Linked DNA regions of Homo sapiens: regions 1, 3 and 4 are each linked to region 2. The links come from fine-mapping of genetic effects on gene expression. A gene starts in region 2. Each other region holds a variant in brackets. All regions are shown on one strand. Distances are from middle to middle.

The links.
Region 1: its variant is fine-mapped to the expression of MAPKAPK5 in fetal neocortex (Walker 2019, PIP 0.95).
Region 3: its variant is fine-mapped to the expression of MAPKAPK5 in whole blood (TOPMed, PIP 0.93).
Region 4: its variant is fine-mapped to the expression of MAPKAPK5 in whole blood (TOPMed, PIP 0.99).

Annotation. Positions count from the first base shown.
Region 1 is chr12:112,202,396-112,210,499 of GRCh38, reverse strand. HECTD4 (HECT domain E3 ubiquitin protein ligase 4) reads left to right here. Exons shown (of 76, transcript NM_001388303.1): 50 at 248-485; 51 at 1,870-2,006; 52 at 2,500-2,626; 53 at 5,877-6,014; 54 at 6,728-6,864. Among named protein-coding and RNA genes, the nearest start is that of MIR6861, 43 kb to the right of the region's middle. The variant AG/G (reference allele first, on the strand shown) is at 3,966.
Region 2 is chr12:111,837,328-111,845,431 of GRCh38, reverse strand. It overlaps MAPKAPK5 (MAPK activated protein kinase 5), which reads right to left and starts at 3,204. Exons shown (of 14, transcript NM_003668.4): 1 at 2,663-3,204. The coding sequence starts at 2,698. MAPKAPK5-AS1 (MAPKAPK5 antisense RNA 1) reads left to right here and starts at 2,427. Exons shown (of 2, transcript NR_015404.2): 1 at 2,427-4,105; 2 at 4,955-5,665. RefSeq lists silencers at 859-1,027, 2,709-3,058, 3,139-3,318 and enhancers at 2,519-2,618, 3,349-3,628.
Region 3 is chr12:112,340,778-112,348,881 of GRCh38, reverse strand. The region is part of intron 1 of HECTD4 (HECT domain E3 ubiquitin protein ligase 4); the gene reads left to right. Among named protein-coding and RNA genes, the nearest start is that of HECTD4, 38 kb to the left of the region's middle. The variant G/A (reference allele first, on the strand shown) is at 4,136.
Region 4 is chr12:111,444,991-111,453,094 of GRCh38, reverse strand. SH2B3 (SH2B adaptor protein 3) reads right to left here. Exons shown (of 8, transcript NM_005475.3): 3 at 6,241-6,342; 4 at 6,062-6,153; 5 at 5,876-5,970; 6 at 5,551-5,765; 7 at 5,268-5,439; 8 at 1,472-5,112. The coding sequence ends at 4,793. ATXN2 (ataxin 2) reads left to right here. Exons shown (of 25, transcript NM_001372574.1): 25 at 255-881. The coding sequence ends at 283. Among named protein-coding and RNA genes, the nearest start is that of SH2B3, 43 kb to the right of the region's middle. RefSeq lists enhancers at 4,501-4,570, 7,691-7,960. The variant C/T (reference allele first, on the strand shown) is at 4,536.

The sequences.
Region 1 (8,104 bases), 370 kb before region 2:
GAGGTCAATGTGTTTGAGCAGCAAAGTACATGAGAGTGTGAGGTGAGGGACAGGGAGGCAGGGCTGGCTGTACAGGGCTCTGAGCACAGGTGTGCTCAGTCCCTCCAGCCCCCACCTGGTTTCTCATGCCAGCACACACCTCGGGCTATTCTTCCAAGGTGACGTTTAGTGAGCTGCGCCTTGGGCTCTTGCAGAAATAAAAATAAACGTAAGTCTTTCCAAATCCTTCATTTGGTCTCCTTTCCAGAACACCAAAACCCGAGCTAACTTTGGCTCCCGGCCGTTTGCCTACGCGGAAGGGCAGGCCCACCGCAATGCTGCTGACCTGTGCACTGACCTAGCAGAAGAGATCAGCGCTAACTTTGAGGCCCTGCCTTTCGCCATGGCATCTGACAGTGACAATGATGCTGGCACCAGTATTGCATCAGACCCAGGCACTCATGGGCCACCATGCCGGATTGCTGCCGTGGCCACCGCTCAGCAACGTAAGTCACCTCCTGGAACTTACTGCCTCCATGGCTTCCTGAGACCATGAATGTTATGAATTCCATAAACCCATTGCACTTGAGCATCCTCATTACAATCAGGAGTTGCAAACTCACGTGCCCATTGGTAATGGGGTCACAGGCCTGGTGAAAGAAGGTGGGGAGCAGGATGAAGCACAGCAGACCAGAAAGTTCATCCCCATTTCCAGGAAGCCTGCTATGCCTTAGGGCAGCCAGTGCAAGACCACTAGAGCCCCAGGACTTTGTATGAAGTCTCCTCATGTCACAGTGTTACTCATTTTCAAAAATTGTCCTAAAACCAAGGTAATCACAGAATAATAAAATGCTAGGCAATGGATATATAGGCGTGCACTAAAAACTTTTATGATGGTCAGGTGAGGTGGCTCATGCCTGTAATGCCAGCACTTTGGGAGGCCGAGGTGGGCAGATCACCTAAGGTTGGGAGTTCGAGACCAGCCTGACCAGCATGGAGAAACCCCGTCTCTACTAAAAATACAAAATTAGCTGGGGGTGGTGGCGTGTGCCTGTAATCCCCAACTACTCAGGAGGCTGAGGCAGAAGAATTGCTTGAACCGGGAGGTGGAGGTTGCAGTGAGTTGAGATCGTGCCATTGCACTCCAGCCTGGGCAATAAGAGCGAAACTCCATCTCAAAAAAAAAAAAAAAACTTTTATGATTACTTGTAACAATTTTTTCATAAAATTAAATAAAACAGCTCACCAAAGTAAGGATGTCTGCAGGCCATATTTGGCCCATTGGATACTAGTTTGCAAACTGTTTTAAGATTCTGTTTAGGGCCAGACACTGTGGCTCACATCTATAATCCCAACACTGGGAAGTCAAGGAAGGAGGATAGCTTGAGCCCAGGAGTTTGAGACCAACCTAGGCAACACAGTGAGACCCTGTCTCTACAAAAAAATTTAAAAAATAGCCAGGTGTGGTGGCACACACCTGTAGTCCCAGCCACTCAGGAGGTTGAGGTGGGAGGATCGCTGGAGCCCAGGAGGTTTAGCTGCAGTGACCTATCTTTGCACCACTGCTTGCCAGCCTAGGCAACAGAGTGAGCTTCTGTCTCAAAAAAAAAAAAAAAAAAAAAAAAAAGCCTGTTTAGTTCTATCTATAGTGAAGGACTTTCTAAAGTCTTCTCTGAATTGAATGAATTATACTCATAAAAACTATTTTAGGATTCAGGGTAATTATAGATAATTAGTTATTCCTAGACTCTGTGATTTAACATTCCTCAGTGTACTAGGAGTCTTCCTATCATGCAAATTAAGATAATCTGGTTTGTCTAAGGGTGAGAAGTTAAGGATTTTTCTAGCCTGCTCTTGTTTAGAATTCGCTGTCCTTGTGCTCTGTTACAGAATATGATAGTGACACCTCCTGTCATTATAAAGTCGAGCTCAGCTATGAGAATTTCATCACCTCTGGCCCAGACCCTCACCCGCCTCCCATTGCAGATGATGAAAGCGATGATGATGACGATGATGACATCCCTCAGGTAAGAGACCCACAGGCTTAGATCAGGACTCAGCAGCATTTGCTTAGCTCCCTAGTGACTAGGACAAGCCTGGAGGAGTGATTTTGATGTGAGAGTGCAAAGCTGGTTTTGTTACTCTCAGTGACATCATTGTGCTTGAACAGTGACCTTAGAGTGTTAATTTTTCTAAACCCCTATCAATAGCGATATCCGTTGGGCCATTTTGCCCGGTGAAGATCCAGAAACTGGAGAAGTGAAGTGCTTTGCAATAGTTCAGAATCCTGTGAAAGTGCTTCTATGGCTTCTTTAGAGGGAAACGAAGAGCTTGCCCTAGTGTTGCTGTTCCCTGCCCTGGCATCTGGGGGTGTATCTAGTACAGGGGTCTATGTCTGATCTTTCTATTACTGGCATTTAAGTGGGGTGAAGACCTCAGGGTGAGGGCTGTAAGTTAGGGAAACAGTGATGCCTGCACCAGATATTCCTTCTCTGTTCATGAGGTTCCTTCTGCTTCCAGGAGGACCACTACGCCCTGCTGGTGAAAGCATGGGAGACCAAGGTTTTTCCTACCATCCGAAGACGCTTCCGCAATGAAGCAGAGCGGAAATCGGGCCTGGACCAGATAAAGGGGGCCTTACAACTAGGTCTGGTACTTTTTGTTCTGCTAAGGAGGTTACTTCATGACTTGAAGTGAGGAGCTGGATGAAAATCAGAATGTAAATCAGGAGAGACTCATCTAATGTTGCACCATACTTAACAGTGTCTTTGACCTTACCTTTAGTGAACTCTGATCTTTTGTTTTCATTGCTGGACTTTGATTTGCTTGTCAATTTAGCTGAATATTTTGGGTTGATGGGCTGCTGCAGTGAAGCTGGAGTGGTTATACTGGGAAACTCTGTGGTCTGGTGGTTAACAGTTCACATCTGAAGTCATACTGTTTACCAGCTGTGTGGACTTGAGAAAATTACTTAACATCTCTGGGCTTTCCCCATCTTTAAAATGGAATATGTGCTCTGCAAGGTTGATTTGGCAGTCTCTCACTGTTCCCTGATTCCTGCTTATTAAACAGTATTTTTGGCCGGCCATGGTGCTCACGCCTGTAATCCCAGCACTTTAGGAGGCTGAGGTGGGTGGATCACCTGAGGTCAGGAGTTCGAGAGCAGCCTGGCCAACATGGCGAAACCCCATCTCTACTAAAAATGCAAAATTAGCTGGGTGTGGTGGCACACGCCTGTAGTCCAAGCTACTCCGGTGGCTGAGACAGGAGAATCGCTTGAACCCAGGAGGCAGAAGCGGCAGTGAGCCGAGATTGTGCCACTGCACTCCAGCCTGGGCAAGATAGAACAAGAGTCTGTCTCAAATACATACATACATACATACATACATACATACATACATACACACACACACATATACATAAACAAACAGTATTTTTTTTCTCATACCCACTGTTCCTTTTGAAAACATTGCAAAGATTATTGTTCCCTAATCTTCTAATCTTAGGCCACAATTTCTTGTTTATTCTAACACTTAATTCCAAAAGCGTCTGTCTCTAATCACAGCACCCTTTTAAACTCTGCTCAGAAAATTGCCATGCTTTTTCCTTACAGTAAGACCAGTGAATAAAAGAATGGTAGATAGGTGGGATGGAGTTAGGCCTTGTGTAAAAAAAGCAGATTCTAGGCCAGGCATAGTGGCTCACGCCTGTAATCCCAGGACTTTGGGAAGCCAAGGCAGGCGGATCATGAGGTCAGGAGATTGAGACCATCCTGGCTAACACGGTGAAACCCCGTCTCTACTAAAAATACAAAAAATTAGCCAGGCATGGTGGCAGGCACCTGTAGTCCCAGTTACTCGGAAGGCTGAGGCAGGAGAATGGCAGGAACCCGGGAGGCAGAGCTTGCAGTGATCAGAGATCACGCCACTGCACTCCAGCCTGGGCAACAGAGCCAGACTCCGTCTCAAAAAAAAAAAAAAAAAAAA[AG/G]CAGATTCTATCAACACCCACTTTTTTTATTATTTTTTTGAGAGAGTCTCGCTCTATATTAACTGGGCTGGAGTACAGTGGTGCAATCATAGCTCATTGCAGCCTCAAACTCTTGGGCTCAAGAGATCCTCCTGCTTCAGCTTCCCGAGTACCTGGGACTACAGGCACTCACTACCAAGCCTGGCTAATTTTTTTATTTTTTGTAGTGACAGGGTGTTGCTATATCCCTCAGGGTGGTCTTGAACTCCTGGCTTCAAACAGTCTTCCCACCCGGGCCTCCAAAGTGCTGGGATTACAGGTGTGAGCCACTGCCCCTGACCAACACCTGCCCTTTCACCCACAACGTCCTGGGCACTGTGGGGCCTAAGGCAACAACAGGATATGGAGGAATTGTGCCCATTTTGCTTTCCTCCCATAATGCTTTTCCTCCCAGGTCTTTGGACATTTAATTACTTGGTTTATTAATTAATAGTAGCTGTTGCTATCAAACATAATCGTATGTTCTTTCTCTGGGAAGAAAGAGCAATCTCAATAAGTGGATAGAAGAAGCTCATATAGCCTTCTCTCTTTCTTAAACAAGCAACATGTGTTTATTGCAGTAAAAATCAAACAGTACAAAAATATAGAGAGAAATAAACCTGGCCAGGCACGGTGGCTCACACCTGTAATCTCAGCACTTTGGAAGGCCAAGGCAGGCGGATCACTTGAGGTCAGGAGTTTTGAGACCAGCCTAGGCAACATGGTGAACCCCCATCTCTACTAAAAATACAAAAATATTAGCCGAGTGTGGTAGTGCGCGCCTGTAATCCCAACTACTTGAGAGGCTGAAGCATGAGAATCACTTGAGCTGGGAGATGGAAGTTGCAGTGAGCCGAGATTGCACCACTGCACTCCAGCCTGGGCGGCAGAGCAAGACTCTGTCTCAAAAAAAAAAGAAAAAGAAAAAGAAACGTTACCCTCACTTTCTTCTTCCTCTCCATTTGTCCTGTAATTTGTTATTTTGAGTTAACGAAAATGAAATAACTGCAAAATAATGGACCATTTTTAGTCATTTTGTACTGATGAACACTTCGGTTTTTTCTACTTTTTTGCTATCTACCAACAGTGCTACTTGCTCTGTCTCCCAGGCTAGAGTGCAATGGTGCAATCTCAGCTCACTGCAACCTCCACCTCCCGGGTTCAAACAGTTCTCCTGCCTCAGCCTCCCGAGTGGCTGGGATTACAGGCACCTGCTACCATGCCCAGCTAATTTGTATTTTTAATAGAGACGGGGTTTTGCCATGTTGGCCAGGCTGGTCTCAAACTCCTGACCTCAGGTGATCCACCCACCTCGGCCTCCCAAAGTGTTGGGATTATAGGCGTGAGCCACTACGCCTGGCCATTTTTTTTTTTTTTTTTTTTGAGATGGAGTCTTTCCCTGTCATTGAGGCTGGAGTGCAGTGGCGCCAGCTTGGCTCACTGCAACCTCTGTCTCCTGGGTTCAAGCAATTCTCCTGCCTCAACCTCCCGAGTAGCTGGGTTTACAGGCGCCTGCCACCATGCCTGGCTAATTTTTGTATTTTTAGTAGAGACGGGGTTTCACCATGTTGGTCAGGCTGGTCTTGAACTCCTGGCCTCAAGTAATCTACCTGCCTCAGCCTCCCAACGTGCTGGGATTACAGGTGTGAGCCACTGTGCCTGGCCTTAGTGCTTATATTTCTGTGGAAGAGATTTGAGACATTCCTAAAAGTAGTACATTTAGTATTCCAAACATGGTAGATACTGCACAATTTCCTTCGCCAAAGGGTTATGTACTTTCATAAACAATGTTTGAAAGATTCCCTTATCATTTCACTCTACATGTAAGTCAGTGTCATGGTTGATCTGTGTGTACTCTTTGGGGAGTTACCCTGTGCTGTTATATTTTTTAGGTATGGTGGATATTGCCCGACAGACGGTTGAATTTCTCTACGAAGAGAATGGTGGCATCCCAAGAGACCTTTATCTTCCCACCATTGAAGACATTAAAGACGAAGCAAACAAGTTCACAATTGATAAAGTTCGAAAAGGTTTTGCTTTCCTCCTTACTCGACCTATGAAATTTCCTATGAAATGAGAGGTTGAATTTTCCTTAATGTGCACAAGCAGCTGGTGGTTCTCCTAGGGTGACTCTCCTTACTCCGACTGGGCTAACCTCTTCCACACCGCCCCATGTGAAGCCCTAGGGCAACCCTGGTGGGGCCCTTCCCACTTCCCAGAACTCAGTAGCATGAGCTGAGTGGGGCAGGCAGCTGCACAAGAAAAGAGGTAGGGCCTGGGCTCCATCTCTACTAAAAACATAGAAAATAGCTGGGCCTGGTGGCGCACGCCTGTAATCCCAGCTACTCTAGAGGCTGAGGCAGGAGAATCACTTGAACCTGGGAGGCGGAGGTTGCAGTGAGCCGAGATCACACCACTGCACTCCAGCCTGGGCCACAGAGCAAGGCTCTGTCTCAAAAAACAAACAAAAAATTCTTTGCCCATTTTAAACTGGCTTATTTGTCTTTTTATTCTTCAATTGTAAGAGCTTTTACAACGTTCTATTATATTACCTTCCAGACTGAGTTGTGTTCTTGCTTGGTTATAACAAAACTGAGGGTTCTGTTAAAGCCCGTAGAGCTATTTTATTTTATTTTATTTTATTATTTTATGTTTATCTGGAGAGCTATTTTAGATGCTAAATGTAAGAACCCAGATGCAGTGGTACTTTTTCCTGAAAAACTTCTCCCTCTACACTCCTCAGGTCTCACAGTAGTAACCCGCTCTCCAGACAGCAATAATGTAGCCAGCAGTGCTGTTGGAACTGCTCTGCCAAAATTTGCCATCCGAGGGATGCTGAAAACCTTTGGGCTTCATGGAGTCGTCTTAGATGTTGATTCAGTGAGTGAACAGCCATTCTGATTAATAAGCTATTTTATATATACTGAGGCTGTCATACCCAGATTCCCAGGTACCTTAAAAAGTGATTATACAGATGAGTTTCTCTTCAAATCAGGGACGAAGACACAAAGCAAAAATGCTCTAATGCCAATTGACTTGCCTGAGCTTTCCTCAGGGACTCAGATCAGGGCTGGCAGTAGATGGTAGGCTCTCCAGTCTCAAAGCTGTGGCCGCCTTCAGACCACACCACCTCTACCATTATTTTCTGTCCGACATGTTCAAACTGTTCCTGCATTATATCTACCCAAGTTCCCAGGGAAAAGTCCCCATTGTCCTTGATGAATGGATGATCTGTCATTGCCATGATGGTCATACAGACACAAATCAAAGAAATAGGCTGGGCGTGGGGCTCACACCTGTAATCCCAGCACTTTGGGAGGCCGAGGAAGGAGGATTACCTGAGCCCAGGAGTTCGAGACCAGCCTGGGCAACATGGCGAGACCCTGTCTCTACAAAAAATTAGCTAGTCATGGTGGGCATATCTGTAGTCCCAGCTATGTGGGAGGCTAAGGTGGGAGGATCGTTTCAGCCTGGGAGGTCAAGGCTGCAGTGAGCTGTGATGGCGTCAGTGTTCTCCAGCCTGGGCAACAGAGTGAGTCCCTGTCTCCAAAGGAAAAAAAAAAGAAAAAAGTTTTGTCATTTTGATCACATCATCTCACTGATTCTCTCAGCCTCAATTTCCCTATCTGTAAAATGAGTGTATTAAACTGGATCAGTGGTTTCCTCCTCCATTTTGCAAAGCTCTCTCCTAGGACACAGCTAGGACTTTTCGGGAAGGGGGCAGAGTGAGAGAGGACAAGGCCAAAGCTTTCTTTTGAAAAGAGACTCCTGTTTGAAAGCCATGACTATGTGATTCTGAGGTTGCATGCCCATCCTTGTATTTGAGAAGCTTCCTATGCAGGAAAAACTGGTGAAATAATATACAGATCAAGCCTGAGAGTCTCTGATAAAATATTAATATCATCAATCACTGTATAGATATAAACTTTGGTATCTGTCTAGAGAGAGATACAGATGATATTAGGTTCCATTAATGCTTTGAAATTTACCTTGAAAAATTTACATCTTTAGGCCAGATGTGGTGGCTCATGCCTGTAATCCCAGCACTTTGGGAGGCCGAGGCAGGTGGATCACTTGAGGTCAGGAGCTTGAGACTAGCCTAGCCAACATAATGAAACCC
Region 2 (8,104 bases):
GTAGTCCCAACACTTTGGGAGGCCAAGGCGGACAGATAACCTGAGGTCAGGAGTTCGAGACCAGCCTGGCCAACATGGTGAAACCCCATCTTTTCTAGCAATATAACAACAATAACAACAAAATAGCAATAACAACAAAAATAGCCGGGCGTGGTGGTGTGCGCCTGTAGTCCCAGCTACTCGGAGGGCCAAGGCACAAGAATTGCTTGAACCTGGGAGGAGGCGGCTGCAGTGAGCCGAGATCACACCACTGCACTCCAGCCTGGGTGACAGAGTGAGACTCTGTATCAAAAAAAAACATAGGGTGAGATTTCAACTGAGTCTACCTAGAGAAGCTATAACAACCACTAAGTGACATTGCTGCCCTATTTGTATACTTATCTCCTGGAACTATGTCTCTCTTCTGTTCAAAACTCTCCTATAGTTCCCCTTTTAATCAGGGTCAAACCCAAAGTTCTTACGATGGCCTACAAGGCCCTAAGTGCCTTGCTTCCCATTGCTGCTCTACATCATCTCCACTGACCCACTGCATTCCAGCCACCTTGCTCTTCCTACATCACACTACACCTGCTTCTACCTCAAGGTCTGTCCTTGCTATTCCCACTGCCTGTTATACTCTTCCCTGAGACAGTGGTGGCTTGCTCTCGCATTTCCATCAGAACTCTACAGTGTCACCTCCTCGGACTACCCTATTTAACACAGTACTCCTCACCCTTTCCACACTTAATTAAAACCACCTAGCAGTAACCCCACCCTCTAGAATATAAGCTACATGACAGTAGGGACATCTAGGAGTCTGGCTTGTACCATTTGTGTCTAGGACACCATCTGGCACACAGGAGACAATGTTTAAAAACTGGCCACATACGCTTTGATTCACAACCCAATTAAATAACTTCAGGCGGCATATCATGCCTCTGTGCCAATAAAACCCAAACCAAGGCTGGGCGCGGTGGCTCACACCTGTTATCTCAGAACTTTGGGAGGCCGAGGCGGGCAAATCATGACGTCAGGAGATGGAGACCATCCTGGCTAACACAGTGAAACCCCACCTCTACTAAAAATACAAAAAAATTAGCTGGGTGTGGTGGCACGTGCCTGTAGTCCCAGCTACTGGGGAGGCTGAGGCAGGAGAATCACTTGAACCTGGGAGGTGGAGGTTGCAGTGAGCCAAGAGCATCCCACTGCACTCCAGCCTGGATGACAAAGCCAGACTCCGACTCAAAAAAAAAAACAAAACCCAAAACAAAAGAAGGATATGTCAAGGCAGTCTTTTAGAATCTTTATGATTTAAAACCTCGTCTTCCTTGGGCCAGGCACGGTGGCTCACGCCTGTAATCCCACCATTTTGGGAGGCCAAGGCGGGCAGATCACGAGGTCAGGAGATCGAGCCCATCCTGGCTATTACGGTGAAACCCCGTCTCTACTAAAAATACAAACAAAAGAAAAAATTAGCAGGGCGTGGTGGGTGGGCGCCTGTAATCCCAGCTACTCGGGAGGCTGAGGCAGGAGAATGGCGTGAACCCAGGAGGCGGAACTTGCAGTGAGCCAAGATCGGGCCACTGCACTCCAGCCTGGGCGACAGAGTGAGACTCCGTCTCAAAAACAAACAAACAGACAAAAAACCTGGTCTTCCTTAATGTATATGTTATATGTTGATGCCTCCTTTAAAGGGTTAAGTTTCTTTGGAATGACTTGATGATTTTGAGAAACTATATACACCACCTAAAGAATTGGTAGAAATGTAAATTCTTAATCATTACTAGTAACTGTCTTGAAGGGGAAAATAACCCCAAGCTGCCAATAGATGCCTGTCCTTCAAGATAAAATGAAATTATTCAATGCACTGGGCTGACTTAACACTACAAATAAGTAAATAATACATCAAACTTTAAGCGTCAATGTTTAATTTTCATAAGACTAATTTCTTAGCTACAGCTGTCAAGACAGATAACTGGCCCTGAGTGGGCAAAATGTGCCTTTAAAAAAAAAAAAAGTTAAAAACAGGTTTTAGAAAACTTATTTTATTTGTGTAATTTTCGAACACACATTTGCTTTTCTTTTGGTTTAAGTGCAGTTAAGTCACAGGAACTGTTAACTTTTCCTAAGTAAACTCAATGCTTCCTAGGAGAAAGAAGAGGAAAAAGAAAAAGGGGAGAATACACGGAAAAGTGAGGACAACCTATTCCCCAAAGGACAGGTTTTGTACGGCGAACCACCTTTTTCCAACTGCAGATTTCCAGAAGGCTGATTTCAAACAAATCGGGAGGGATGGATAAATTCCAACTCTCCAAGTTCTGTAGACCATCCGGAAGCAAATGCTGGCGGCCTTGGGGAGTGATCGAAACGTGTAGTAGTAGTAGTAGGGCTCTCTTCGTCCCATTCATTGACACTTAATAGTGTCTCCAGGCCACTCACCTCTGTTCCAGCTGAGCACAAATCACACTCACCAGGGAAGCTGGCGGGAGTCGGACACACACCTACACCCACACCCATAACCCTTGGCCCCAGGGCTGTAAAGCGCGATCCACGGAATCCGGGGGAGGCCGAAACCCGGTAGTCGATGGAACCTCTCACTGCAAAATCTCCCTGCTTTTTGAGGCTAGAGCCGAGAAGAACGCCACAGGACAACGCGGGGGAAGAGGGGGCACCTCCCCCTTACCTTGATGGCTTTGTCCATGTCGCTCTCCTCCGACATACTCAGTGGGGCCCCCACAGCCGGGAGAGGCGGAGGCTGCTCAGCAGCCCTGTCCCCGCGCGGCCGAGGGAGCAAAGGGCTCGGCACTCGGGCCCCTGGGCCTCGTGGCGACGGGCAGCAGCCGCCCCTCGGGACCGGTGGGGATGAGGACCCCGGCGCCGGCTCTGCTTCGGCGGGCGGCTCTAGGCTGGCGGCAGCAGCAGCGGCGGAGGCGGCGGCCCCTGGGGACAGGTCTTTGTGCTGGGCCCCACGCGGCCGCCTCCTAGCCTCATCCCCAGCTGGGGAGGCAGGCTCCTGGGGTAGGGCGAGGCGGGGAGGGCCTCGACCCGGGGCGCCGTGCAAGGGCCTCGCGGGGCCGCCGCTTAGACCTGGGCTCGCCAGGTCCTAAAGAAGAGCCTGCGCCTCCGCCTCCGCCGCCTGCACCGCCGCGAAGCCGAAGCCGAAGCCGAAGCAGAGCTCGGCGCCGCTGCTCCCGCCGCCGCCTCAGCGCCACACATCGCCGGGACACCCGCGCCGGGCAGCCCCGCCGGCCGCCCTCACGCACGCGCTGTGCCCCGCGGGAGCTCCAGGCCGCCCCTCCTGCCGCCCAGCTTCGTGACTCCACGGCCCCACGCGCCCCTTGCTGCCTTCCGCTGGGGTTTCCGAGCCGCCCCCGAACCGCGCACCCGACTTGCAGGCGTCCGCCTGGGCCTCCCTAAGACACGCCGCATACAGGACAGGCCCCTGGGCCTTCCGCGGCGATGGCGCTGCGCTAATGACGTCATAGGCCCGGACTCGCGTGAGTGCGCGTGCGTTGGGGCCTCAGCCTTTATCTCCACTCTGCGGAGATTCACGCCTGGAAAACGCTCTTCTGAGAGGATCTGTGGAGGTCAACCCAGGAGAGAGAAGACAGGACTGAAGCACTGAAAGGGTCCTGCCGTTAAGGGCGCAGGATTGTATAGAATATATAATAGCAGTAGCAGCTCTGTTTACGGAGCATTAACCTTACGTGGAGTTATTTCCTGCATTTCCTCCTTTCGTCTTTACAAGGTAGCCGTTTGGCGTCGTGAGGTATGGATGTTCCCATCCCTAATTTGCAAAATAGGTAACTGAGGCTCAGGAGAGCTAGACTAGTTTGTGCACAGCCGAGAAGTGGTCAAGCTAGAATGGGACCCCAGGTTTGTGCTCCCTACTCTCCACCGATAACCTATCAAAGGGCTTTGCAAGAGCTTTTGACTAATCGTCTGTCAATGGTTCTTCATTCACGTATTAATTGCACATCAGTATGTGCCAAATCTACTAGACATTGGAGAAACAGTAGGAACAACACATGGTACCGGCACATGGATCTTTCAGGAAAACGAAGTAGGTAATAAACAGGAAAAAGCCCGAGTCTGATGCTAAGAAGAACATAAACAGGATGCTGAGGTAAGAGAATAACTGGATGTGGGGACTTCTTCGTATTAGATGATTAAGGAAGGAATCTCAGGAGGTAACATTTAAGCTGAGACCCCTGAGGAATGAGAAAGGGCTGGCTATTGGAAATCCAAGGAAAGATTTCTGGGCAGATGGGTAGAAATTTTAAGGTGGAAATAAGCTAAATATGTTCAAGAATCAGCAAGAAGGTCATTGTAGCTGGAGTAGATCGAGTAGGAGGAGACTGATAAAGGGTGAGGTTGGAGGCTGGGCGCGGTGGGTCACGCCTGTAATCCCAGCACTTCGGGAGGCCAAGGCGGGCGGATCACTTGAAGTCAGGAGTTCGAGACCGGCCTGGCCAACATGGCGAAACCCCGTCTCTATTTCAAAAAAAGAAAAAAAAAAGTATAAAAAGGATGAGGTTGGAGATGTGGGCAGGGGCTGCATCATATGTGGCCTTTGGGGGTCATAATCAGGACTTTGGATTTTATTCTAAGCTATTGTAAGGTTTTAAAGTAAAGAGTGATGTGAACAAATTTGTTTTAAAAGATCACTCTGCTTTGTAGAGAATAGAATATAGGAAAGCAAGAATGGAAACAGAGCTATTAGGAGGCTATTGGAGAATAATGCAGATGAGAGATTATTACACTGTCTGAACTAAGGAGGTGGCGGTAAAGGTGTAGAGAAGATGGATTTTTTTTTTTAAACGGTCCCACTGTCTAGAGTGCAGTGGCGTGATCACAGCTCACTGCAACCTAGACCTCCTGGGCTCAGGCGATCCTCCCACCTCAGCATCCTGAGTAGCTGGGACTATAGGCGCATGCCACCATGCCTGGCTAATTTTTCGTATTTTTTTTGTAGAGATTGGGTCTCTCCACATTGCCCCGGCTGCTCTCCAACCCCTGAGTTCAAGTGATTCACCTCCCTTGGCCTCCCAAAGTACTGGGATTACAGGCGTGAGCCACCGTGCCTGGCTGAGAAGATGGATTTAAGACATATTTTGGAGGTAACATTGTCAGGACTTCCTGAAGGATTAGATGTGGAAGGGAAGGATAAGAAACAGACCAAGGATAACTTTCAAATGTATGCTTAAGCAACTGGATGGATAATGATGCCATTGAGTGAGTGAAAAACTTGATGGAAGTGGAAGATTCAGAGTTCATTTCTATCTAGGTTAATTTGAGACATACCAGAGCATAAGTTAAGTAAGTAATTGAATATTGGAGTGGAGACTTATTTGTCTACCGAATTATTGTTTTCTTTGTCGGACATACACCTACACTGCATTCCTCAAAGTAAAATTTAAGTGTGGCTCTGTGCCTATGCTCTCCCCAGCGGAAAGTGACCAGAAGAGGTGTGCAGTTTCCAGGCCTGGCCCATACAGACCTCCAACAGGTGCTCCCCTGTGCTGTTACTCCTTCTGCCAACTGGAAGCAGATGGTGACCAGGCTCTGGAGAAGGCAAGGCCTGAAGATGGGAGATTCCTAAGTGGAGGAGAACTGTGCCTTACTGACCTAAATATCCACTCAGTATTGTTATGTGAGAATAAATAAACTTGTGTTGACCGTTTACTTACTTTGAGTCTTTTGTTCTAGCAGCTTTGCCTATGCTACCTAATATGAATAAGAGCAATGATCCCGCGATGAACTTTGGGAGAAAATTTTTAAATGACTTCAGTTGACATCTGTAACAGGAAATATTCGTGCAAAAGTAATTGTGGTTTTTGCCATTTAAAAATAATGGCAAAAACTGCAGTCATTTTTGCACTAACCTATAGAAGATGCCTTGGATTTATTCATTCATTTCATCCAGTAAGAATTTCTCTCTGCCAGGCTCTATGTCTTGTAATAGAGATGCAGAGATGATGTCGTATAATAGAGATGCAGCAATGAAGAGACAAGGTCCCTGCTCTCAAGCAGCTTTTAGTCTAGCTGTTCAACTTACCGACTTATTTGCACGTGCTTTCCCACTACCTAGAAACTCATGCTTCCCTCATAACACACACACATACACACACAGCCTGGTTTCTACTCATTCTTCAACTTTATTCTTCTTTGAGGCGGAGGCTCACTGTGTCCCCCAGGCTGGAGTGCAGTGGTGCGATCTCGGCTCACTGCAACCGCCGCCTCCTGAGTTCAAGTGATTCTTCTGCCTCAGCCTCCCGAGTTGCTGGGATTACAGGCACCCGCCACCACGCCCGGCTAATTTTTGTATTTTTAGTAGAGACAGGGTTTCACCATGTTGGCCAGGCTGGTCTCGAACTCCTGACCTTAGGTGATCCGCCCACGTCAGCCTCCTAGAGTGCTGGGATTACAGGCGTGAGCCACCACACCTGGCCAATTCTTGATAATGTTTTTTCAGAAAGGCATGCCTTGCCCATACCCTCCTTTCCTAATCTAAATCAGATGTTCCTATTATCCTGTAACTAAATAATCTCAACAAGGGAAAGAATCTTATTTGTCTTATTGGTCATATGTCCCTAATACCCAGTCCATTGTAGGTACTTAATAAATTTATTTGTCGAAGGAATCAATGAATGGAGAAGGCAGAACCCTGAAGAAAGCGGTTTCTTCCAATGAAATTCCTCTGTTTTTTGCTGGTGTGGCAGCCCTGGTTCACAGCCTCCAGTGATGCTCACATCTTGGTATTTATGATCTTATGTAGTCCTCTCGCCCTGCATGTGGTCTGGATCAAGTGGTTTGCTTTCAGTGAACAGATGTCATGTTCAAGATTAGGTAGCAGAAAAACTCTGGCTTCCATTGGGGCCCTCTCTGACTCTTTTACTTATCTGCTCTTAGGGAAGCCAGCTCACTTGGTTCCTAAGGCTGCTGTAACAAAGTATCACAAATTGGGTGGCTTAAAACAACAGAAGTTTATCCTCACAGCTCCAGATGCTAGAAGTCTGTAATGAATGTGTCAGCAGAGGCCGAGTACTGTGGCTCACTCCTGTACTCCCAGCACTTTGGGAGGCCAAAGCGGGCAGATCACTTGAGGTCAGGAGTTCGAGACCAGCCTGGCCAACATGGTGAAACCCTGTCTCTACTAAAAATAAAAATAAAAAAATTAGCCAGTGGTGGTGGCAGGCACCTGTAATCCCAGCTACTCTGGAGGCTGAGCCAGGAGAATCACCTGAACCCGGGAGGCAGAGAGGTTGCAGTGAACGGAGACCGCACCTGTGAACTCCAGTCTGGGCAACAGATCGAGACTCTATCTCAAAAAAAAAAGTGGTGGGGCACGGTGGCTCATGCCTGTAATCCCAGCACTTTGGGAGGCCGAGTTGGGCAGATCATGAGGTCAGGAGATCTAGACCGTCTCAGCTAACACGGTGAAACCCCCCATCTCTACTAAAAATACAGAAAAATAGCCAGGTCGGGTGGCGGACTCCTGTAGTCCCAGCGACTCAGGAGGCTGAGGCAGGAGAATGGCGTGAACCCGAGAGGCACAGCTTGCAGTGAGTCAAGATCACGCCACTGCACTCCAGCCTGGGCGACAGTGTGAGACTGTCTCAAAAAAAAAAAAAAAAAAGTGTCAACAAAGCCATGTTCCCTCTGAAGGCTACAGGGAAGACTCCTTCCTTCTGGTGGCTCCAGACAGTCCTTGGCATTCTTTGGCTGTATCACTCCAGGCTCTTCCTCTGTCTTCACATGGCCTTCCCTGTGTGTCTCTCTGTGTCCTCTCCTCTTAATAAAACAGTCGTTGGATTTAGGGCCCAACATCATCCAGCACGATCTCATCTTAATTACATCTGCAAAGACCCTATTTCCAAATAAGGTCACATTCTGAGCTTCTGTGCAAACATGAATTTTGGGGCAATATACTATTCAGTCCATTACAGACATGGCGAGGAACTAACATCTCTTACCAGCTGCCAGTGAGTACCTAAGGACTACCCACACATACATGAGCTTAGAAAGGATACTCACCAAATTGAGCCTTTAGCTGATGGCATCCCCAGCCCACAACTTGATCGTGGCCCCGTGAGAGACTATGCCAGGCGCACCCAGCCAAGCC
Region 3 (8,104 bases), 500 kb before region 2:
TCTTCCTCTCTCTAGATATATAAATGCTTAGTATATATACATACATAGGTTTATATATAAAACCTATGCATGCACTTTTATTTATTTATATATTTTTTCATTTCTTGCTAATATACACTTTTTTTTCCCCAAAAGATAGGGGGTTTCACTTTGTTGCTCAAGCTAGCTAGACTGCGGTGGTGTGATCATAGCTCACTGCAACTTCGAATACCTGTGCTCAAGCAATCCCAAGGAGGTGGGACTATACGCACACACCACTGTGTCCAGCTCATCTTTTAATTTTTTTTTATAGAGACAGGGTCTAGCTATGTTGCTAGGCTGGTCTCAAATTCTTGGCCTCAAGCGATTCATCTGCCTCGACCTCTAAAGTGCTGGGATTACAGGCATGATCTCCCGGCCCACATTTTTTATAAAAATAGGATTATGCTCCACATAATATTTTAGTGAATATAAGTTTTAAGTTTTCCATCTATAGTTCTGTTTGATACAACATTCAGGAGCATTCTAAAACCTATTTCAAGGGCATAGTAGAGTCTGTTTGGTGAGGCTTATTTCTCTCAACTATAAAATTGATAGGTTTCTCACCTCTTGCTTTAGAGGTCGCTTATAAAAATAGAAAGATGCTAGGGTTACCCAGATAAAGTATATGCTCCTCCTAATGCATTCCCTTGTAGAACTACTCTTGTGTTAATCTAGTTTATTTCTTAATATCAACCATAACTTTTCTCTGTGCTGCAGCGATTTGATTAAATTTAAAAATTTTTTAAGTTTTTCCACCTGCAATTAGAATGCTTGGTCTTTAAAATGTTCAGATTATAAAAGTTCATGGTGTTCTGCTATTTTATGGTAGATCTCTATGGCCTATCCAGACTCAGAAGCGAACTATTTCTGCTCAAGACTGGGGCAAAGATAGAGGCAGAGCCCATGAGGTGACAGCCTGAAAAAGCTCAAGCATGGAATTCTGTATATTGTCCTGTTACACGTCATCCATATAAATGGAATGTGTGTACAGTTCATCTGGCAAGCAATTGGCATGAGAGCAAACACAGCTTGGGCTAACATACTGTCCTTATGTTCTAAATCAGCAGTTCTTACCACCTGCCATGGGGCCCCCATCTCCTTCTGCCCTGAGCATCTTGGCTTTAGGAAACCACAGAGTGTGATGTCTTTCTCAGCTATGTTGGAATAGAAGAAAGGTTGTGAATCATAGCTCCACTAGGGTTCTGACGTATGATATTTGCATATTGATGGTTAATATTAGGTAACTGAAGTGCAAGTAAATTCCTTAAGTTTCCCTGGCTTTGTATTTCAATTGCTAGGTTCTTCCCAATCCGGGAGTCTCTGTTTTCTTTTCTTTCTTTTTTGTGTTTTTGAGACAGGGTCTCTCTCTGACTCCCAGGCTGGAGTGCAGTGGTGCAATCTTGGCTCACTGCAACCACTGCCTCCCGGGTTGCAAGCGATTCTTATGCCTCAGCTTCCCAAGTAGCTGGGATTACAAGCGTGCTCCATCACACCCGGCTAATTTTTGTATTTTTGTAGAGATGGGTTTTTGCCGTGTTGGCCAGGCTGGTCTTGAACTCCCGGCCTCAAGTGATCCACCCACCTCGGCCTCCGAAAGTCCTGGGATTACAGACATGAGCCACCATGCCTGGCTGAGTCTCCTTTTTCAAAGAGCCTGCTTGACAGACACCAACTCATTTATCATCAGATATTTTTTATTCAACATTTGCTCCTCCTTCCTGAAATATATAAATATATATTTTATATGATAAATGTATATATTTATGAAAAAAGAAACATGAAAAGTCGAGGCCAGAGGAATTGCAAACTGTAGTTAGAAGGCCAGATTCAACCCACAGATTTTGTTTGATGTGCAGAGGTTTTCAAAAATACTTTGAATACCTTTAGGAGGGACATGAATTCTCCAATTTGCCTTGGGCACCAACATTTCCAGTATATATGGATATATGAAATACTAATCCAAATAATTGATAATAATTGATAATTAAGAGCTAGGAAAGCTCTGATTTAGGAATGTGAAATTCTGTCTCCTTTTCTCGTATTTTAAAAAAGGAGAGCAATCAAATAGAGTGGTCACTCAACATATTGCCCTGCTCCTTTCCCCACCACTGAGTTCTGGCTGGGGAAAATATGACTCTCAGAGCAACTGTCGGGGCTGGAGAAATTCAAGAACTATGGCAGCCTCAACACAAAAATCTTTCCTGATTTATGTTATAAAGTGACAATTTCTCTCTCTCTCTGGAAAGCCAAGAGTAGCTTCAACTATAGATGGTCTAGGTTTTGTTTGTGCTTGTCTTGGAGTGCAGTATCTGGCATTTAAATAGCTCATCTTGCAATGAGAGCCAGTTTATATGTAGTAATAGGCTTCATCCTAAATAAAAAGTTTGAGTGGCAGTCGAGGGTGGGCAGAGTTTCTCAAGCTGCACCTGGTAAGAATTGCTGGTATGTACCAAAGTGATCTGAGGGGAGGGAAAGAAAAGGAAACAAAAGGAGAGAGAGAAAAGAATTTCTGGGATGCCTGTTAAACATGCAGATTCCCAGGATCTCTGGCAGAAGGCATAGGGGGAATATGATTTTTTCACCAGTGCTCAAGGTGATTCTTATCAGGTGTGTGTGAGAAACACAGGTAATGTGGTTCACAAAGTGGGCTCTGAGTTTAGAGACTGCCTTTTAATTCTAGTACACCAATTACAAGTGAGGTAACCTTGGCCAATGGGTTAACCTTCTAAACCCGCAGTTTTCTCACCTGTGAAATGGGGCAGTCGCACTCCTTAGCTACCTCATGCTGTGGTTTTCCAGGTTAAGGACTATAGCGAATGGAAGCTTCTTATTCCAGCACATCATAAACATTTGGTAAATGTTTCTCCTAACTACCAGACTTCCTGTGAGTTCTTGAGCCATAGCTCCAGAACATTCAGGAAAGATCCATGTTTGCTTTCTCTTCTTTCTTTCTTTATTTTGTTTTTGAGACGGAGTCTCGCTCTATCGCCCAGGCTGGAGTGCAGTGGCACGATCTCTGCTCACTGCAAGCTCTGCCTCCCGGGTTCACGCCATTCTCCTGCCTCAGCCTCCCGAGTAGCTGGGACTACAGGTGCCCGCCACCATGCCCGGCTAATTTTTTGTATTTTTAGTAGAGACGGGGTTTCACTGTGTTAGCCAGGATGGTCTTGATCTCCTGACCTCGTGAGCCACCGGCCTGGCCAGCTACTTCCTGTTCTTTCTAAAATAGCATCTTACAAAAGCCATACATACTCACCTGACAAAATTTGAAAAAGCAAAAGGAAGAAAAGATAAATTACTCGAACCTCATTATTTCATGAATTTACTTCCAGGCTCTGTAACAAATGCCATAATATAATTAATATATAGTTAATTTTCTCTTGTAAACTAATTTTCCTCTAATTGCTTATTCTGGTATTTACTTTTGTGTTTCTTATACTATTAAGGTTTGCTTGTTTGGTTGGTTGGTTTTGTTTGTTTTTGTAGACAGGAGTTAGAGTCTTGTTTATTGTTTTCATATCGTTTCATTGTCCTGGTTTTTTTCTTCTTTTTTCTTCTTCTGACCTTGTTCTTCCATCACACTTTTTTTTTTTCTTTTTTTGGTAGGGGATAGGGTCTTGCTCTGTCACCCAGGTTGGAGTGTGCAGCAGGGCCATCATGGCTTACTGCAGCCTCAACCTCCTAGGCTCAAGTAATCCTCTTGCCTCAGCCTCCTGAGTAGCTGGGACCACAGGTACATGCCATCACACCCTACTATTTTTGGCAATTTTTAAAAGATGGAGTCTTACTATACTAGTCAGGCTGGTCTTGAACTCCTGGGCTCATGTGATCCTCTTGCCTTGGCCTCCCAAAGTGCTGGGACAGGCATGCACCTCTGTACCCAGCCTGATCTTATCTTTTATCTTCTCTTCTCTCTTCTCTTCTCTTCTCTTTTCTTTTTTTGAGACGGAGTTTCATTCTCATTGCCCAGGCTGGAGTGCAATGGCGTGATCTCAGCTCACTGCAACCTGTATCTCCCAGGTTCAAGCAGTCCTCCTGCCTCAGCCTCCCAAATAGCTGGGATTACAGGCATGCGCCACCACGCCTGGCTTATTTTATATTTTTAATAGAGACG[G/A]GGTTTCACCATGTTGGTCAGGCTGGTCTTGAACTCCTGACCTCATGTGATCCACCTGCCTCAGGCTCCCAAAGTGCTGGGATTACAGGTGTGAGCTACCACATCTGGCCCTGATTTTTTTCTTAATCCAAACATTTTATATGTGATAGGAAAAACTCAAGACAGTCCAGAGACCTACTGCCATCTTCCCCCCAGTCTATCCTCTTCTGTATTCATACTTATGTGCCTCTGCCCTGTTGACCTTTTTGTGAGCTCTGAGTTAAGCTAGTTTTGGAGTTTGTATTTTGAACAGAAGTGTTGGATGGCTTGTTTAGTTTCTTATAGTGTGGCGGTTTACCAGGTCATGTTCTTTATGCATAACACTCATCTGAATTGTTACAGAAACCAGAGGACCAGTTATAACCCCCCTGCAGTTTTTGGTTTTCAGTTTTAGTGTTTTGCTAAAACAGGACATTCTAGGATATTTCTGTAGTTGTTGTTGATTTTTCTCCTTAAAGCCATTAAGGGTTGGAAATACTTGGAGTTAAAATTCTAAAAGTTGTCCCTTACAGTTTTAAATGAGTGGAAATCAAAATTTATTACTAAAAGTTGTTAAATGATCTACAGACTTGCCTTAGGAAGCCTTGTGGAGAGAGATTTAGGATTCACATTAAGCCCTATTCAAAACCCATTCCATTTTCCTCCCTGCCATAGTTGGCGTCCTCCAGGCAAGTTCATCTCAACTCTTAGCTTGTTCAGTCACAAAACCTGAAGATGCTACCCATCGGAGCTATTCATACAGTATTGTCTTTTTAAAAACATCAATGTTGTTATATGCATATTTTTGCAACTTGTTTTTTTCACTCAATATCTGGCCTCAGCTTTATTCACATGTATATCACTCAGCCTCTTTATTTTTTAACTTCCTCACAGGTGATTTAGCCCTTCTCCTGTTGGTAAATATTTTAGGTTGATTTCACTTTTTTTTTTCCCAAGAGATGGGGTCTCTCTGTCTGTTGCCCAGGCTGCAGTATAGTGGCGTGATCATAGCTCACTGGAGCCTTGAACTCCTGGCCTCAAGAAATCCTCCCACTTCAGCCTTTCATGTAGCTAAGACTACAGGCTTGTACCATCATGCCCAGCTAATTTTAATTTTTTTTTGTAGAGGTGAGGTCTTGCCGTGTTGCCCAGGCTAGTCTCAAATTCCTCACCTCAAGTGATCCTCCCTCCCTGGTCTCCCCAAGTGCTGGGATTACAGACCTGAGCCACCATGCACAGCCTCAGTTTTTTCTCTAATACAAACAGTGTTCAATATTTTTGTACCTTCAAATGTTTTTTAATCCTTGCAGTGCATATTACTGCTTTGTACATCAGAAGCCATGTCATACATAAAGCTTGTTGAATTGCATTTGGAACCTGCTGTTTAATTAATTTATTTAGAAATAGTGTTCAAAGAAATAGAATGTCAAATAATTTGAAGGATAGTTTTGAAAGAATGCTACCTATGTGCTGTGGGACATCAAGGATGCAGGTTAAACCTTTTACAACATATTTATGTAACAAAAATATGTTTAAGCCTAAGTGGTTGTACATTTATTTTCTGTTATATTTGGTACAGCAGATTTCCAGTGTAATAAAAAAAGATTTGACATGTCTTTGGAGGTGATTTTGCTGTAGCTTTAGGAGTTTTTGTGAAATTCTAAAATTGTACAGTTATATGATTTTGAACATAAAAGAAGGAAACTTGTTTCATTTTACTAGTAACCTCTGAGTGTTACAGAGTGTTGTAAATTACATGTGCATCAGTGTAATAAATTACAGTGTTTTTGAAGGAACTTTCTAAGAAGTAAAATTTTTTGGTTGTGATTTATGCTTCATTTTAACTGTTACATTGCTTACTAGGGAAAGGATTTCTTTGGTGAAAAAGCATATTGGAAAGAGAAGTTGAACTTTAGATGTCTTGTGACATCACAGAAGATAGGTATGACATGGCATAATTTGGCATACGTGGTTTTGGCAGCAAAAATTTAATCAGATCTCACAGAGGCAACTTCTTGCTTAAAATCCATTTTGCACTAGAGTTTTTTTCAGTGTTCTAGAATATTTTCGTGTATTCATCCTGTAATTACTTCTAGGCAAAACTGTAACTCAGATGCGATAGTAAAAGCAGCATTAAGATCAGGCAATTTTATATATTTTACTTCAATAATTGAAACAATTCTTAGAAGTTTGAAGTTATAGGTTCCAAAGAAAGGTCATAAAAACTAGATTACATTTCTTATTGTTTTTTGTTTGTTTGTTTGTTTTTAAATAGACAGGGTCTTACTCTGTCACCCAGGCTGGAGTGCAGTGGTACGGTCATTGCTCACTGCAGCCTCAAACTCTTAGGCTCAAGCGATCCTCCCACCTCAGCCTCCTGAGCCTGTAGGACTACAGGCATGCACTATCACAACTGGCTAATTTTTAATTTTTTTGTTGAAAACAGGGTCTTCCTGTGTTGATCGGGCTGGTTTTGAACTCCCAGGCTCAAGCAATCCTCTTGCCTTGGCCTCCCAAGGTGTTAGGATTACAGGTGTGAGCCACCATGCCCGGCCTTTAGTGTTTTTCTGATCATGGGATAGGACCAATAGTTCAACAATAAATCCTTTTGTGAGAGATTTTATTGTACTTAATGTCAGATGGCAATAGTTAGCCTTCAACAATAAATCATTTCATATATCAAAAAGTGAAGCTATAGGTTATGAGCCAATTTAGGCTCTCTGAGGTCCAAATGAGAGGAAAATGGATGAGCAAACCTTTGGGGTCTAGAGTCATATTATTTTGGGTGAGCAATGTTTGTCATATATTAGCTTCACCAGAAAATTTTGCCTTTGGATATAAATCCATTTCAACCAAGAATTTCTGGATTTGTCCCTGGTCTGCTAAGATGGGAGTTGAATGACTATCTAAGTACTATCTCATATGGTTAAGCTTTGTTTTATCTTCTTTTTAGTGGTTTATCCTTAGATTGCTTGCTCCCTGCCCCCAACACATATTAAGTCTTAGCTGGGAAAGGTACATTTAATTTTAGCTAGTCGGTTAGTTTTTCTGAACATTTGTTCTTTGCAGACTGAGGGAGACAGATGGATTTGAATTCTAAAGTGGAGTCTTTTGATGTAGCAGAAGAAATAACCCGTAAAGCGATAGACGAGGTTTCCAGGGAGTTTTAATTAGTCAGGCACAGCTGTGAGCAGGAATTGACAGGAAGGGCAAGATTCAGTGGCATAAAATAGGTAACCTTTCTTATGTTTCTTAGAGGGACTTAGTGGTCAGCCATAGTTATTGGGAATTTTTATTGAGTAGTCACTGGGTGCATATTCACATTCAGCCAAACAGTTACAAACCACAGGTTTAGAGGCACAGGTTAATGCCTCTGATCTTAAAAAAGGTGAAGGGTCAGAAGTCTCAAACAGAAGTGCTGACCTGGGAGTGCATTTGGAAGTGGTGCCTTATTGTGTCTGTTGCTCCTTCTGTAGCTTGTTTGTCTTGTTTGGGGGAGCATGTATGTTCCCTAGCAGGTGGCATTTTTAATGTATGTGCACTGACAGGTAGCATTTTTAATCTGCTGCTCATTCAGTAAATATTTGTCTAGCATCTATTATGTGCCAAGTTCTCTGGCACTTGTGATACATTGGTGAGCAAAACAGACAAAGCTATAAGCTATACTGACAAGAGTTTAGAGTTAATTCGAAAAAGATTTTTAAAAATAATATTAGTAAATGTTATTGAGTGCTTACCTTGTGCCAGGTATTGTGTTTTGTGCCTCATTTCAGGAGAAACTATTCAAGACACATTGAGGTTTGAATGCAGAAGGTATAAAGATGAATTAATGTAAATCCCCACCCTTGAGCATGCAGTCTATCAGCATCCTTCTGGTACCTAATAATTATATATAAAATTTGTCAAATTCGGCACATGAATAGAATCGTTCCTATGCACAATTCTGAGGAT
Region 4 (8,104 bases), 390 kb after region 2:
AGGCCTTTTTTTCTACCCCATGAACAAGTCTTCTGGGAGTTTTATCTGAAGTGGTTTTACGTCTGACTGGTTTGTTTCTACCCACCCACCCAACCCTCCCCACTTTGGTGCAGATGGGAGGGGGAAAAGCGAATTCAATTTTGAGTTTTGTTCAGCTAGCACGAGGATAGTTTACAATCATGTGCTGCAGAGACACTAGGCTGATGTGTGGTGTTGCCAGTTTTCTGTTTCAATGTTCGCTTTTCTTTTTACAGTACAAGCCCACCACCAACAGCAGTTGTAAGGCTGCCCTGGAGGAACCGAAAGGCCAAATTCCCTCCTCCCTTCTACTGCTTCTACCAACTGGAAGCACAGAAAACTAGAATTTCATTTATTTTGTTTTTAAAATATATATGTTGATTTCTTGTAACATCCAATAGGAATGCTAACAGTTCACTTGCAGTGGAAGATACTTGGACCGAGTAGAGGCATTTAGGAACTTGGGGGCTATTCCATAATTCCATATGCTGTTTCAGAGTCCCGCAGGTACCCCAGCTCTGCTTGCCGAAACTGGAAGTTATTTATTTTTTAATAACCCTTGAAAGTCATGAACACATCAGCTAGCAAAAGAAGTAACAAGAGTGATTCTTGCTGCTATTACTGCTAAAAAAAAAAAAAAAAAAAAATCAAGACTTGGAACGCCCTTTTACTAAACTTGACAAAGTTTCAGTAAATTCTTACCGTCAAACTGACGGATTATTATTTATAAATCAAGTTTGATGAGGTGATCACTGTCTACAGTGGTTCAACTTTTAAGTTAAGGGAAAAACTTTTACTTTGTAGATAATATAAAATAAAAACTTAAAAAAAATTTAAAAAATAAAAAAAGTTTTAAAAACTGATCAAGTTAGTGTGTGTCTGTATAAGCTACTTCTTTGTAGGATACTTAATATCAAAGCAGGTGTGCTAAGGGTGCATTTTGAATATCCCGGAAGGTAGCTGTGAAATGATTTTTCTTCTTCACCCTTAGTTCTGGTTCAAGGTATCTCTAGAAAAAGACAAGACTGAGCTATTCTCTTTGGTGGATTAGAGATCTGCTTCAGGAGGAGGAAGGTTGGCCAGAGTTGGGCAGCACTGAAATTCCACATCCTCGGGCTGACACCGATTCTGTAAGCTTCCTTTTTAATATCTCCTGAACCAAAATGAGTGTCATTAGCTGGAAGTTCCCAATTCGGGCATTTTTCTACTTTACCAGTAGGGGGCAGGAGACACTCAGAAAAAAATTGCAATAAAGAAATCCAGAGGGCATGAAGGCTGAAAAGATACAAAGATGTACAAAGCTGCTTATTGACATGGATGGACTCATAAGCATTTGTTAGTATTCCCAGATTGCAACGGGGAGGACAAAGGGAAGAGCGAGTATTTGGGCAGGGCAAGGATTTTGTAGAGACACCATGGTCTTAATAGAGCCTTTAAATATTATGACAGCAAATCAAGATTCTGAAAACTTTTTAATTCACATATAGCAATTTGTACATTATAGCAAAATTTGCATTATTCAAGAATAAGTTACTTGTACAGTACATAAAACAATACATAAAAATTTGCCAAATACCTTCTGCCTATAATGATACAAGATGAATCCACTTTATGTTATCACAATGTGCTGTATATTCTAACCAAACACAGGATGTCAGATGTGTCCTTGTTAATATACTCGCAAGTTCCTCTAGCTTGTGGGAGATGTTAGAGCTAACACATTTGCAGTAAGGGACTTAGTCCTGAATAGAAAGCATGAAGGAATCTCAGGCAACCCTCAGGGAAGAGTCCAAGGCCTTGACTTTAGGTTAAGAAACTGTTATGTAAAAATAGTGTTCTCTGGCCCAAGATTTTAATGATTGCTATTCCTTTTTCCTACGGTCCAGAAATGATCAAAGGCAGAAGATTTATACCAGATAAAGCCATATGGATTGCTGGTCTAAAATTCAAGGCAGGTTAGTTGACTTAATTCTTTGGTGCTGGTGACTGTTAGTTTGTAAAAGTTCAATAAGTCAGATGAAGGAAGGGATGGTGCCGGGAGCTGTCAAGCTGTACTGGTGGGGTCTGTAATTAGAGCTAACTGGAGGGATCATGATGTCTACTGTCCAGTTTGGTGTTGAGCCATGGCTCTCGGTAGAAGTTGCCGGCTGGGGCCTGGTCAGGACTGGAAGGAGAGTGGTGGGATGTGCTGTGCCTATGGTGGGCTAGCTGCAGCCAGTGGGGTGCCTGCCCCACACTGCTGCCCACCCCTTCATCAGCTGATTCTGCTCCCACATAAAGAAAGGTGTTGGCTTAGTGTCACTTCTTCCTAGAGCCATGGGAGTTTTCTGTCAGCATGTTTTTGAGCTGTCCTGGTAACTTGGACGGGAAGCAGTCTGGAGGTGGGTGCCTTCCAAATCTCTGCCACAGAATCTGAACTTGCACTTTGCAGCCTGTTAGTCAGAGCTGCTAAGTTTGCTCTACCTGGTGTGCCTCTTGGCACCACCTGAGAGATGTATGTAGAGAGGCTGCTAAGAAATGAGTGCCCCTGGCATGAAGACGTCATATCCCAGATGTTTAACTTCTGGCTGGAGGGAGGGAACTTAATTTGGTTCATTATCTACTGGGTACCTTTCCTGTGCGGAGGGGAGGACCAGTGACTTTCCATAATAAGCTTTCTCCTTTAAAAAAACTTCAGACTCTTACTTACTCTTTTGGTTCACACTAATTAGCATTCATTTTCCAGAGAAAGCTGCTTGACTTTGAGGAAATAAAGACAGGTGTCCTTAAAAATGGACTGCAAATCTGGATCAGTGTCAGGTCTGCTTTAGGGTCCATGAAATCACCCAAGAGTGTTGGTACTAAAAGTGGTGTAGGCTGGGCGCGGTGGCTCGCGCCTGTAATCCCAGCACTTTGGGAGGCCAAGGCGGGTGGATCACCTGAGGTCAGACATTCGAGACCAGCCTGGCCAACATGGTGAAACCCTGTCTCTACTAAAAATACAAAATTAGCCAGGCATGGTGGCTGGTGCTTGTAATCCCAGCTACTTGAGAGGTCGAGGCAGAATCGCTTGAACCAGGAAGGTGGAGGTTGCAGTGAGCCAAGATTGCACCACTGCACTCCAGCCCGGTTGACAAGAGAAACTCCATCTCAAAAAAAAAAAAAAGAAAAGTGCATAGGGGTTTGTTCCCCCACCCTCTGAAAGACCCCAAGGAAATTCTAGAAGCAAAAATTTGACCTCTTGGAGCACAGAGACTAAGTATAAGTGGAAGAAGCAGACCTAACCCTCCTCCCAGGCAGTCAGTCCTATGAGTTTTAGGCTGAGGTTTCATTTTAGCCTCTGATCGATGTATCTGTAAAGCTGATCTAAACTCCCAGTTTCCTAGAAGCCACTGCTGTGAGCCTGGGGGTTGTACTGAATGGCTCTGCTGGCACCCAAGAGCAGCTGACTCCACTGTCACTGCCCCCGTTTCTGAGCCTCCAGACAGGTTCTGGGAGGAGCCAGCCCCCTATGAATTGTATCACTTGTATAGATAGAGATTTGACTTCAGGACCTCCCTGGATGGTGGAGATTGTGTGTGCCCATGTGTGCAAGGAGATAGATAGATTCTCAATCCAGTGAAGCAGTAGCCAGCTAGAACAGAACACTGATTGTGGGCTATTAAAGGAGTTTCTCATTAGTTATGGCACCAGATTCCCAGCTTCCATTTTGGCTCAAAAAAGGAGCCTAAAACCCACTTGTGGGATAATTTAATAAGCCATTAGATGCTTGGAGGGCACCAAGCCAGCCTTGTTGCTGAAGGATTTACTAGAAAGGGCCTAGGAGTCCTTCTTCCCTTTTTGCTTGCTCTTCCCCTAGCCCCAGTTAATTTAACTATCACTGTAAAGCTGCTGTAAACCAGAATCCAGTTTTTTATTCGTAAGGCACCAGGATAGAACTGTTCTTGCCACCCTCCTATTTCAGTAATTGCCTGAATTTCCCTGAAAGGGTGACATACTTCACTTCTTGACATTTAGGAAGGACAGTGGCCACTCAGTGGCAGGTGACTGTCCCGAGGATGCAGTAGACAAGCCAGCATGCTGGCTCAGACTGTAAATTAGGTAGGGTTTGCATAGCTGTTTCTGACTACAAAAATAGCATGGGTGTTAGTTGAAACAGTGCACTGAAATAAGCAGTGGTTAAGTTTTGAACCTGAATCCTTTAAAGAAATTAGTCTGAGGTAAAATGTTTTAAATCATTTTTGACCTTCAGCTTGTGCCTCTGACAGAGCTTTTGTCCTAAAGCTGAGAGTAGAAGCAGGATTAGATGTGGTCATCTGTGGTGTGGACACAGCAGACCTGCCATGTGGACTGACGGTAGATGGGAGAACCGCTTGTTAGTGTTCTGGGCTTCCTGATGATCCCCCCCTCCTCCCCGTAGAAAGTCTGTCATCCGCTGTGACAGTGTCAGTGAAAAAGAGAACAAGTTTCCACTGCCAGCTCTGGCCCTCACCCCAACTCCTTTCTCTAAGAGTAACGGGGACTGGGCATAGGGACCC[C/T]GGGCAGGAGCTAGCGGCATCCTCTAACAAGAACTACATCTGTAAACAATAAGGAGAAAGCCAGGTGGATAGATGAAACCTACAGGAGGGCCCTTCAACAGGCCTAATAGAAGGGTCACTTCCAAACTGGCACGAGCAGTTAACAGTGTCCCTTAAATCTTTCTCTGGAAGGAAGGAAAGATCAATTACATTCACAAGTTCACACTTCTGCCTGTGCTCCTCAAGGGCAGCTGTTGAGGCCTGGAATTCCTCACTGGTCAGAGAGGTGTGTACTGATTGTCTATGGCCCGCAGGTGGCTCCGGGAGGATGAGTCCATTTCGTAGTCCGAGTCCCGGGCTCGATTCACAGGCTCATGCTCCAGGTGCTGCAGGCTGTTGGCCAGTTCTTCGGGCGAAGGCACCAGGTGGAAGATCTGCTCGGGGGGTGAGGATCGCCCTGGGAGACCCTCTGGGCTGAGCCCCCGGGGACAGCCAGAAGAACTAAGGTGGGGAAGGCCCAACTCTGAACCCCAGTGAGGAAGGGACTCTGAATCCCAGTGAGGAAGGGAGAAAGGGAAGAGGACCGTGTTGCAGGAACCTAGGACAAGTGACCAAGAGAGACCACACCATCAGTCTTGAGGCAAGTGCTGACAGGACACAGAACAAGATACCTGTACCCCTGGGTCTGCAGCAAGCCTCTACCCTCTACCCAGTGTCAGCCACCCCCTTCAGCAAAGGGCAGTAGGGTCAGACCTGGTGGTTGGGAGACGACTACCACGTAGCTGGAGAGCCGGACATCACAGGCGGCGCCGCACTCGAGTGGGATGGGCGAGCGCTGGAAGTGGTGGAGCATGTCCACGACCGAGGGAAAGTGGAGGTGCTGCACACGGCACTGGCCCCGCTCTGTCAGCGACAGGCGCAGGTGCTGTGGGAGGAGAGGATGGTGGGCTCGGGCTGTCCCTCTAGGACCCTGAACTCCAGTGGAGAGGGGTGGCACGGTCCTGCCTGCCCCACCCCACCCCACCCCACCCCATACCTTGGCTATCCCCTGAAAGTTGAAAGTGAGCACGTATTCCCCACGCCGCGTCTCGCTCTGCCGCACCAGGAACACTCCATGAGCATCAGGGCCCTGCAGCTGAACCAGCTGAGCTGCTTTCACTCTGGAGATGGGGCCGTGGAACCAGGGGTAGCAGGACAGGAAATGGTCCGTCTTCTGGCAGGCCGGGTCCAGCAGCCCCCCAGGAGAAGCACCTGTTAGATAAGATGGGTGATGGTGGTCGCAGGGGGCTACCTTATGTCCTGGGCTGAGTCTGGGTTCCAGCGTACCCAGAAGACAATGGCCTAGCTATTGGTTTACCCACCTTGGTTAAGGGAATCTGTGCTGCCCCTTGGGGAGCTGGACGTGCTAGGCTCTAGGGCTGAGGGAATATGCATCTCTGCTTCTGTGCTCTCCAGCCTGCTGGAGAAGAGGCTGAGGTTAAGGATCTGGGCAGGTCAGGGGTGGTAGCAGCAAAGGTGGTGCCAGGGACGAGGGCCCAGGACCTCACCCTCGGCCTGTGCACTCCGAGAGCTCAGCCATCCATGAATTCAGCTGCTGCTCGTCTCCCACCTCAAAGATGATGTCTGTCCGGTCCTTCACCTGGCAGGGAGGAAGGGAACAGGGTTGGGTCTGCTGTATGTGTATGTATTTGTATTGCCCCAGGGTGTGAAAAGCCTTGTCACTCACCTTCAGCACAAAGGTGTAAAGGTTGTCAGGCATCTCAAGCCGTGTGCACCACCGGACCTCCTGGATGCTGGAGCAAGCTGCTTGTAGCTTGGGCCTTGAACTCTACGAGACCAAGTTGGGGTACTCAAGGCTTGTTCCTGATGCTCTTTCTTCCAGCCAGGCCTGAGTTTGTCTATAGTCTCCCCAGGAGTCCCCCTTTTAGAGAGAGTATCCATGGTGTTGCTGGGCAGGCTCTGAGCCTGTAGTGAGGTCCAGGGTGCCTTCCCCTAGCCTCCTGAACACCATTCACACTGAGATCCCAAGAAGCATGTGCTGGCAGAAGGCCAGCCCTCCCAGCCCATTGGACCTGGACTTGGAGACATTCCCACTCTGCCATGTGTCTGACATCCGTTTCTCTTCCCACTGGTGAGCAAACAGCTCCCTGCCCAGCCAGGTGATAGCAGCTGCTGACGGTCTCATCACACCAAGCCCAAAGGGGCAGAGCCTAGCATGGCTAGCCTAAGTTATAGCCACTGTAAAACCACAAAATCTTGGCCCTGGACCTTCCCAGGACACCCGGCACATAGGGCTGCAGGGTGGATAGGAGTTAGCCACTGTTCCTTTGCCAGCAGGAAACCTGCTCCCAGGTCTCAACTGACCCTGCAGATGCTTCCTGTGCTGGGGCACTCTGCAGCCAAGGAGCCAGCTGCTTCCGGTTGGGAATCTGCTCAGGAGGGGGTTTGCCCCTCCCCTTCCTCTTGTGATAAGACTGAAAAGATGGCCGAAAGAAGAAAAGGGGAGAAAGAGATGAGATAAGGAATGGACAGAAGTGGCCCCACTGGGCCCCCTCCATTCAGGTGTTCCTGGAAAATACTACAACCCCTAACAAACTGGGAGCAGGGGGATGGAAAGCAGAGGCAGCCCAAAGGATGTTCTAGCAACTGTGGCTTCAGGTGATCTGACCTCCACCTCAGCCCAAAAGGGCATACCTTGGACTGGAGCTGCTAGTGCTGTTGAATTGACCCCCAAAACCAGATGCTTAACCTTGCTTTACACACAGAGCTGCCAGGTACCTCTGTCGGAAGGATCATGACCCAGTGGCCTGGCCACCTCCTTTATCCCCCTTCCCCACCTGCAGGAGAGTCAATGAACAGTGAGGTAAGAGGGCAGCCTGGCAGGAGCAGGATGGCCACCTGGGCCCTTCCAGCAGGTCTCCTGGGAGCTCCCGGGCCTGCTCTGGTTGGCGGACACAACAGGCTGGGGGAGAGTAATGACTGCAGGAATGACCAACACTGGCCACAGCTCACTGCGGCCTCTCACTAGAAAGCTGCATGACTAGAAAATTCCAGCCTGAAGTGACCAGCACCAGCCAGGGCATTTTCACCTCCTACTCCCAGAGGTCCAGCAGCCAGGATGAGGCAGGCAGAGTGAGGCCTCACATGGCATCCACACGGGCACTGGACACAGCGCAGTGTGCAGGGAGTGGGGCCTCTGCGCTCTTGCCCATTTTTACAGCCAGCCAGCCCTGCAGAGCCTTCATTTCCTGTCTGCAAGATGGGTAAGGTGCGAGTGGCCACTTCCTTCTGCTACTTTTCCAGTTGGCCCTGCCTGGCCCCCACCCTTCCCCCTAGCTGCAGGCCTTAAGGATCACTGGGAGGATATAGGCCAGGCCTGGAGGGGAACGGGCCTAGTCTCCCTTTCAGTTCCGCTCCAGGCCTAGTCCCCAGTGTCAGTGCTGAGATTAACCAGCAGAGCTGCCGGTTTCACTCTGACTCTGGCCCCTGCAAGCCAGCTCCACCCCCAGCAGCTGAAGAACTGCTGAGCAGGCAGGCAGTGGTGAAAAGAGGATTCCCCTCCTCACCCACAGCCAGCCTGGCTGCCACCT